2 linked regions of the Homo sapiens genome follow. The protein of the gene in region 1 interacts with the protein of each later gene in a pairwise test. Each region holds a gene or a part of one and is shown in the gene's direction. Other genes may lie near its edges. The genes, in order: MARK2 and KIFAP3.

What was found.
Region 2: the proteins of MARK2 (region 1) and KIFAP3 interact in a two-hybrid assay, tested with the Homo sapiens proteins (one large-scale study listed by BioGRID).

Annotation. Positions count from the first base shown.
Region 1 is NC_000011.10:63,890,881-63,894,701, forward strand, and holds part of MARK2 (serine/threonine-protein kinase MARK2), read left to right. Parts: intron 1-3,821. UniProt on the Homo sapiens protein: Serine/threonine-protein kinase. Involved in cell polarity and microtubule dynamics regulation. Phosphorylates CRTC2/TORC2, DCX, HDAC7, KIF13B, MAP2, MAP4 and RAB11FIP2. Phosphorylates the microtubule-associated protein MAPT/TAU.
Region 2 is NC_000001.11:170,064,479-170,068,299, reverse strand, and holds part of KIFAP3 (kinesin-associated protein 3), read left to right. Parts: exon of another isoform or gene 1-796; intron 797-3,821. UniProt on the Homo sapiens protein: Involved in tethering the chromosomes to the spindle pole and in chromosome movement. Binds to the tail domain of the KIF3A/KIF3B heterodimer to form a heterotrimeric KIF3 complex and may regulate the membrane binding of this complex.

The DNA of each region.
Region 1 (3,821 bases):
GGAGCCAGGGCTTGAACCTGATTCTGTTGGACTGCAGAGTTCCTCGGGATCCTCCCTGGCACAGATGTCTGGCAGTATTGGCCACTGGTCGTTTTTTGGGTAGTTCTCTTCCCCATTTGTAATAGTCTCACCTCCTTCTTGACAATGTTGATGTTACACTTGTTTTATTTTGGGGCTTTTTGTGTTTGTTTGTGTGTGTGTGTGTGTTTTCCTTTTTGTGAATGGGGGTCTCACTGTATTGCCTTTTTAAATATATTCTTTTTTTTTTTTCCTTTTTGTGAACAGCAGGTCTTGAACTCTTGGGCTCAAGCTATCCTCCTGCCTCTGCCTCCCTAAGTGCTGCCTGTAAAGGCATGAGCCACTGTGCCTGGCTTGATGATGTTGATGATAATAATAAAGTTAATATGTGCTGAGTAGGTGACAGATTTAGGATTTGAAACCTGGCAGCTTATCTCCGACATCTACAGTCTTAACCAGAAAGGAAGAGAATGAATGGTACAATCTTGCTTGTGGTTGTTAAGCTCCTTGAGGCCCACTTGTGCAGCAGGGCCAGGCAGGGAATGCTGACCTGCTGTGCCACACAGACCAGCCCCTCGGTTCACCAAGAGGGATGGGCAGAGCAGAGCTCAGGATGGGCATGGGATGCCCAGATTTGGTCTCAGTTGGCAAAAGGCCCAAGTCTGCAGGTAGATGCTAAATCCCTGGTCTGGATTTTGAGAACTTAGAGACCGTCACACTTCCTGCTGCCTTGGGCTTATATCCTCGGAGAAACAGGGAGTGACAACAAACTTAGAAGGTGAACTAGAGGTTGCCAAGGAAACTTTCCCACCCATCTTCCTCTCGTAGGAGTTGGGGCAGAAGGAAGGTTTTTTCCTGTTCATTGCCCGTTAGGCAGATGGGTAGGGTTGGAGGCAGTCTAGCAGCACTGAAAGGGAGGATGGGGCTGAGAAAAAGGTAGCCTGAGGAGACCAGGCTTTCAGTACCCTGCTGGACAGGGCTAGGGTACCCTTCAGGAGGCTGGCCCAATCAGGTGCCAGCAGGGCCTAGAAATGCCCTTCTCTCCAAGGGGTGTGAACCCTAGAGTTCCTTTGGAAGGGAAAAAAGCAGGTATTTAAAAATCCACTTGTCTTGCAGACACTGTTTGAGGACCAACCAGGCTTAGGTGAGCTACAGGGTGCGTGGAGAACAGAGCACCAGAGAGCTCTGTGGGCTGGAATGAGCAGACAATAAGAGCTGGGGGGCTTCATGGAGATGCAAAGGTTGATGAGGAAGAGAGAAGGAAGTTAAAAGGGCCTCTTCTGGGATGTGAGGAGCCTCCCCCTTCAAACATCTACCAAATGCATGGGATCTTCCTCCTCCAAGGTCCAACCCCATGTGTTTCTGGGATCTGGTCAAACAGCTCACCAAAAGACAGCCTGCAGCTACCATGCAAAGGCCCTACGTGGGCACAGTGAAGAAGGGGAAATGTCAGAATCAGGATACTGTACTTAACTTGCTGCTGTCGTTTCTGCCTGAAAAGCATCTGGTTGAGCTAGCAAGCTTCTTGTCTAGGAATGCTGGACAGTTCCTTGGGTAGTAGCAAGTCATTCTTTTTTTCTCTGTGGTTTTTGAGTGCTTCACGTACAGCCAGCAGGGGCCATGAAAGGAAGAACTTTCACTCACACTCCTCTGGTCACCCTGCTGCCCTCCAGACTGTTTCCTTGAAGTTTCCAAGGCAGCTCTGGATGGTTCTGGGATGAGGCTCTGGCCTCATATGCTTTGTTGCAGTATGCTGGAGCGATCGCTCCAGATGTTCTTTGTGAGATGTAAACCAGGGCGCTAATCAGGAGTTAGACCAGACTCTGCATTTTTTTTTTTTTTTTTTGAGACAGGGTCTCGCTCTATCACCCAGGCTGGAGTACAATGGCATGATCATGGCTCACTGCAGCCTCGAACTCCTCCTGGGTTCAAGCGATCCTCCCGCCTCATCCTCCAGAGCAGCTGGGACTATAGGTGCATGCCACCACACCCAGTTGATTTCTTAATTTTTTTTTTTTTTTTTTTTTGAGACGGAGTTTCACTCTTGTTGCCCAGGCTGGAGTGCAGTGGTGCGATCTCAGCTCACTGTAACCTCCTCCTCCTGGGTTCAAGCAATTCTCCTGCCTCAGCCTCCCTAGTAGCTGGGATTACAGGCACCTGTAATCCACCATGCCCAGCTAATTTTTTGTATTTTTAGTAGAGACAAGGTTTTACTATGTTGGCCAGGCTGGTCTCGAACTCCTGACCTCAAGCAATCCACCTGCCTCAACCTCCCAAGATTTCTTAATTTCTTAATTTTTTGTAGAGACAGAGTCTCCCTATGTTGCCCAGGCTCGTCTCAAGCTCCTGGCCTCAAGTGATCCTCCTGCCTCAGCCTCCTAAAGTGCTGGGATTTAGGCATGAGCTACCTTGCCTGGCCTAGACTCTGAACAGTTTTAGTGAGATACCATAAGTTTATCCAAGTTTCTTCTGTGTTGTAGCATATATTCTTTTTTACTGCCAACCAATATTCCCCGGTAAGGATATGCTACGTTTGTCTATCCGTTCATCCAGCTGATGGGCATTTGAATTGTTTCCACTTTTTGACTATTATGGATTATGGTGCTGTGAACCTTGGTTACAGGTTTTTTGTGGATTTCTGTTTTCATTTCTCTTTTGTATATACTGAGGAGCGGAATTGCTGGCTCATATAGTCTGTGTTTAGCACTTTGAGGAATGTACACGTCTTCACATAGATGTATGTTTTTTGTCTAGACCATACCCTTTTTGTACAGGTTGAACATCCGTAATCCAAAAGCCAAAATGCTCCAAAATCTAAACTTTTTGAGTGCCAGCATGATGCCACAAGTGGAAAATTCTACACGTAACCCCATATGACAGGTTATAAGCAAAATTCAATCACTTTATTTCATGCACAAAATTATTTTAAAATGTCATGAAATTACCTTCAGGCCATGTATATAATGTACACATGAAAAATAAATGTTTAGACTTGGGTCCCATCCCTGAGATATCTGATTATGTATATGCAAATATTCCAAAATCCAAAACAATTTAAAATCTGCCACGTTTCTGGTCCTAAGCATTTTGGATAAAGGATATTCAACCCGTATTATGTTTATATGCCTCTTCAGTGCTGGTAGTTGTAGCTTCTGCTTCCTCATCCCCTCATTTGAGCCGGGTGGCAGAGCAGGGCAGACTGCTGCCTTGCTCAGACCTAATCGTTCAGTTCTTTCATTGTACAAGTATTCATTGAGCAGCAAACATAAGCCAGTCTCTCTAAGTGCTGGGATGTATCAGTGAATAAAGAATATATGCCTGCTTTCATGTGCTTCCATTTTTACTGGGGGAGATGGCAAATAAATGTAAAGTGATAAATAACAAAGGTTCAGTGGGGCATTCGTAGTTCAGCGGCAGAAATTTCGTCTCCTACGCGGGAGACTCGGGTTCGACTTCGGCCATGCAGTCCTTCCATGCAGGAAGGGCTACTACGTTTCTACCCAACAAAGTTATTATGGCTGGGCGCAGTGGCTCACGCCTGTAATTCCAGCACTTTGGGAGGCCAAGGCGGGCGGATCACCTGAGATCAGGAGTTTGAGACCAGCCTGACCAACATGGAGAAACCCTATCTCTATTGAAAATACAAAATTAGCCAGGCGTGGTGGCGCATGACTGTAATCCCAGCTACTCGGGAGGCTGAGGTGGGAGAATTGCTTGAACCCGGGAGGTGGAGGTTGCGGTGAGCTGAGATCGCACCATTGCACTCCAGCCTGGGCAACAAGAGTAAAGCTCTGTCTCAAAAA
Region 2 (3,821 bases), on another chromosome or scaffold:
TTGCTCTTTGGACATATTTAAGACAGTTGATTTAAAGTCTTTGATAAGTCCAGTGTTTGTGCTGTAGCATGGACAGTTTCTGTTAATTTTTTTTATTGTGAGAATGAGAATGAGTTTCTTGTTTCTTTGCATGTTTCATATTTTGTTTTGTTGAAAACTGGGTATTTTGAATATTATGGTATCCAAAGGAAAAAAAGAAAAGAAAAAAATACTCTTCAGATCTTTGTAGGTTGACTCAGTGTTTGGATATGGCTTCAACACTTAGCCAGGCAATTTACAATTTTACCTTAGCCTTCATTTGCTGCTTGCACAGAGCCTGAAGACCAGCCAGAGGTAAAAGCTTATGATCTTCCCAGGTTTTTTCTGGGTATGTATTCTGCCCTGAGCATGCTCATGGATTTCTAGATTTCTCTTTATATGCAATAGCTTTTCAAAGCATCTATTCCCCCAAAATGTCTGACTCCCTGGACTTTCCTCTTGGGCTTTCAGCTTGTGTTTTGTTTGACCCAGCTATTACTATTTATCCCAGGGGCCAGCAGCTTGTATGCTTGGCTTTCACTGATTTCAGTGACTGCATAGCTGCACTATCCTGATAAGAGTTTAAAATTAGTCAAAACAAAGGAAAGCCCCTTGCAGCTGACCTCAAAGGAAACTTCAGTCAGTTGCAAAACAATCAGACAAAATTCCTTGGGAGCAAGGTCCACTTGACTCCTCTAGAACCAAGTATTAACAGTGGGAACGTGGGCTGCCATCTTGAAGACTGCCACTGTGCTTGAGAGTGGGGTGGATGTCTAGGGTAAGTGAAAAGACCATAATGATCGCCTACCTTGTTTCTGTAACCTTTCTTCTGATTAAACATTCACTTGGTTGCTGTAAACCTTTGACTGTCTTCCAGAGTTCTGATGAGGTTGATTGTGATAGGTTTTTTTTGCCAAGTTTTTAGTGCTTCTGGGGAGTGCCAGCCTCTAGAGGTCCCTACTCTGCCGTTTTCACTGATGTCACTTAGCCATTATCTTTTCATATATTGCTCTGTACCCATTCTCTCTCACCTTTTTTCTGGGACTTCAAGTACATATGCTAGACCTACTCAGTATGCATTGCTGAATTATACTTTTGCTTGTGTTTTACATCTTTTTGTCTCTATGTTTTATTCTGGGTGTTTTCTTCTGACTTATATTTTATGCCATAAATTATCTCCTTACCCGTATCTAATCTGCTATTAAACCTATTTATTTATTATTATTCTTAATTTTGGTTATTGTATTTTTAATTCTAGAAATTTAAAAAAATTATCTAGTTTTTTCTGAAGATGACTATTCTTTGAGTATCATATATAGGAATATAAATGTATAAATAATCATTTGAGGCTCAGGATGATGTTCTCTTTTTCCAGAGAAGATTATATTTTATTTATGTTAGTAAGGATTACTGAAAATTTAGGGTCACCTTAATTAGTTCTCAGAGATTCAATTACATTAAACTGGGCTTTTTAGTCTTGTTGGTGACCGATCTGCATCTGTTTCACAGTTACTCCTAGGAGGTAGTCCTCCTGTTTCAAGCTTAAAGCTTGGAGCTTTACCAGAGCCACTGTTGTTTGGTGCACTCTAGAATCCAGTTTTTGTGTCTCTAGCCTCATGTGATTATTAAAAGATTCTCAACCTCTCAGCCCTCTCTTTTCAGTTAGCAGATACCTCTAGGGAAAAGTAGCCTCAAATTCAAGATTTACCTCTCTTCATTTTCTTTTTCTCCTGGATCTTGGCACTGTAATTTTTTGTGCCTTTTTAGTTCTCTTATGGCCTCAAACAGATACACACATACGTGTTTTTGCCCCCAGCTTTTAAGATTTTCTTAGAAGGTGCATTGGTTTGAATTACCTTAATCCTCTGTTTCTCTATTACCAAGTCTAATGTTAGTAATAGAAATATAAAACTTGTTTTGGTTTTACCAATATGAAAAGCATCAGGAATTATAAATATTTGAGTACATATAAGAGATTATTTCCCTCTTAATTTTTTAAAAATACATATGACTTGAAAGCAAAAATTATGAAATTTTTGTGTGAGTTTATAAGGTATGTACACATAATGCATATGACAGCTATAACATAAAGAATGGGGGGGGGGGTGTAGGCAATAGACCTGCAATTTGTGAAGTAGCACAGCATTAATTCTTAAATACCTTGTGAAAAAAAAAAGGTAACTAAAACATTGTTTTTCCTAAAGCAACCACCAAAAACAGTTTTTAAAAGTATAGTGAAAACATCTACACAAAATGGAATTTAAAAAATAATAATTCACAAGGCTGTTAGGAAAATAATCAAAGTATAGTTGGGCCAAACAGGAAATAAAAATGAAGTGATAGATCTGAATCTAAGTATGTCAGTCATTGCATTAAATGATCCAAAACAATAATGTCCAATAGAACTTTCTTCCCTGATGGAAATGACTTACAGCTGCATCATCAAATACATAGCCACTGGCTGTATGGCTAATGAACACTTTGAACGTGGTTAGTACAGCTAAGGAATTGCATTTTTAATTATTTTTAAAATGTAATGTATTTAAATTTAATTTTAAATAGACCCATGTAGCTAGTGACTATTGTATCAGACAGCATAGGTTTTAATGTTCCAATGGAAAGGCAGAGATTACCAATATTTCTTTTTTTTTTTTTTTTTTTTTTTTTTGAGGTGGAGTCTTGCTCTGTCGCCCAGGCTGGAGGGCAGTGGCATGATCTTGGCTCACTGCAAGCTCCGCCTCCCGGGTTCACGCCATTCTCCTGCCTCAGCCTCCCAAGTAGCTGGGACTACAGGTGCCCGCCACCATGCCCAGCTAATTTTTTGTATTTTTTAGTAGAGACAGGGTTTCACCATGTTAGCCAGGATGGTCTCGATCTCCTGACCTCATGATCCACCCACCTCGGCTTCCCAAAATGCTGGGATTACAGGCGTGAGCCACTGCGCCCGGCCACCAATATTTCTTTTATAAAGAAAAAAGAAAAGCAAGACCCAACTATCTGTCATCCCCAAAAAATATACTTTTAAGTATGGACATGGTAAGTTAATGGTAAATGGGTGCAATCAAACAGTAAGCATAAGAATGCTAAAATGACCATATTAATGTCAGATAAAATAGGCTTTAAGAAAACGTATACTGTAAAAACTACAGAGGAGTATTTCATACTGATAAAATCTGCTACATCCAGACAGTTTTAAAGTCAAATTCTAACAAAATTTTTGGGAAACAGATGCTTCCAATTATGTACAACTCTTCCAAGAAGTCTAGAAAAAAAAGGATACTCCTCAACTAATTTATATTAAGATTTTAGAATAATCTCCATATGAAAGTCAGAAAAAGGACATTAGAAAGGAAAATTGCAGGCTGAATGAGCAAGGATGCAAATTTAATCTAACAGTGCTTTAAGACAGCATTAACAAGTTGTGCTTATTCTAAGAATATGAGTATGGTTTTATGTATTTAATGAATTTGATGTAGTATATTTATGAATTAAAGAAGAACAATACATGATCCTCCAATGGATGCAGAAAAACATTTGATGACATTCACTACACATTCATGATTTAAGGAAAAAACTAAAGCCATAAATAAAAGGGAATTATGATATAAACATATTAAATGAGGAAACTAGCCAGGTGTGTTGGCTCATGCCTGTCATCCCAGCACTTTGGGAGGCTGAGGCTGGTGGATCGCTTGAGCCCAGGAGTTCAAGACTAGCCTGGGCAATATGTTGAAACCCCATCTCTATAAAAAATACAAAACTTAGCTGGGCATGGTGGTGCATGCCTGTAGTCCCAGCTACTT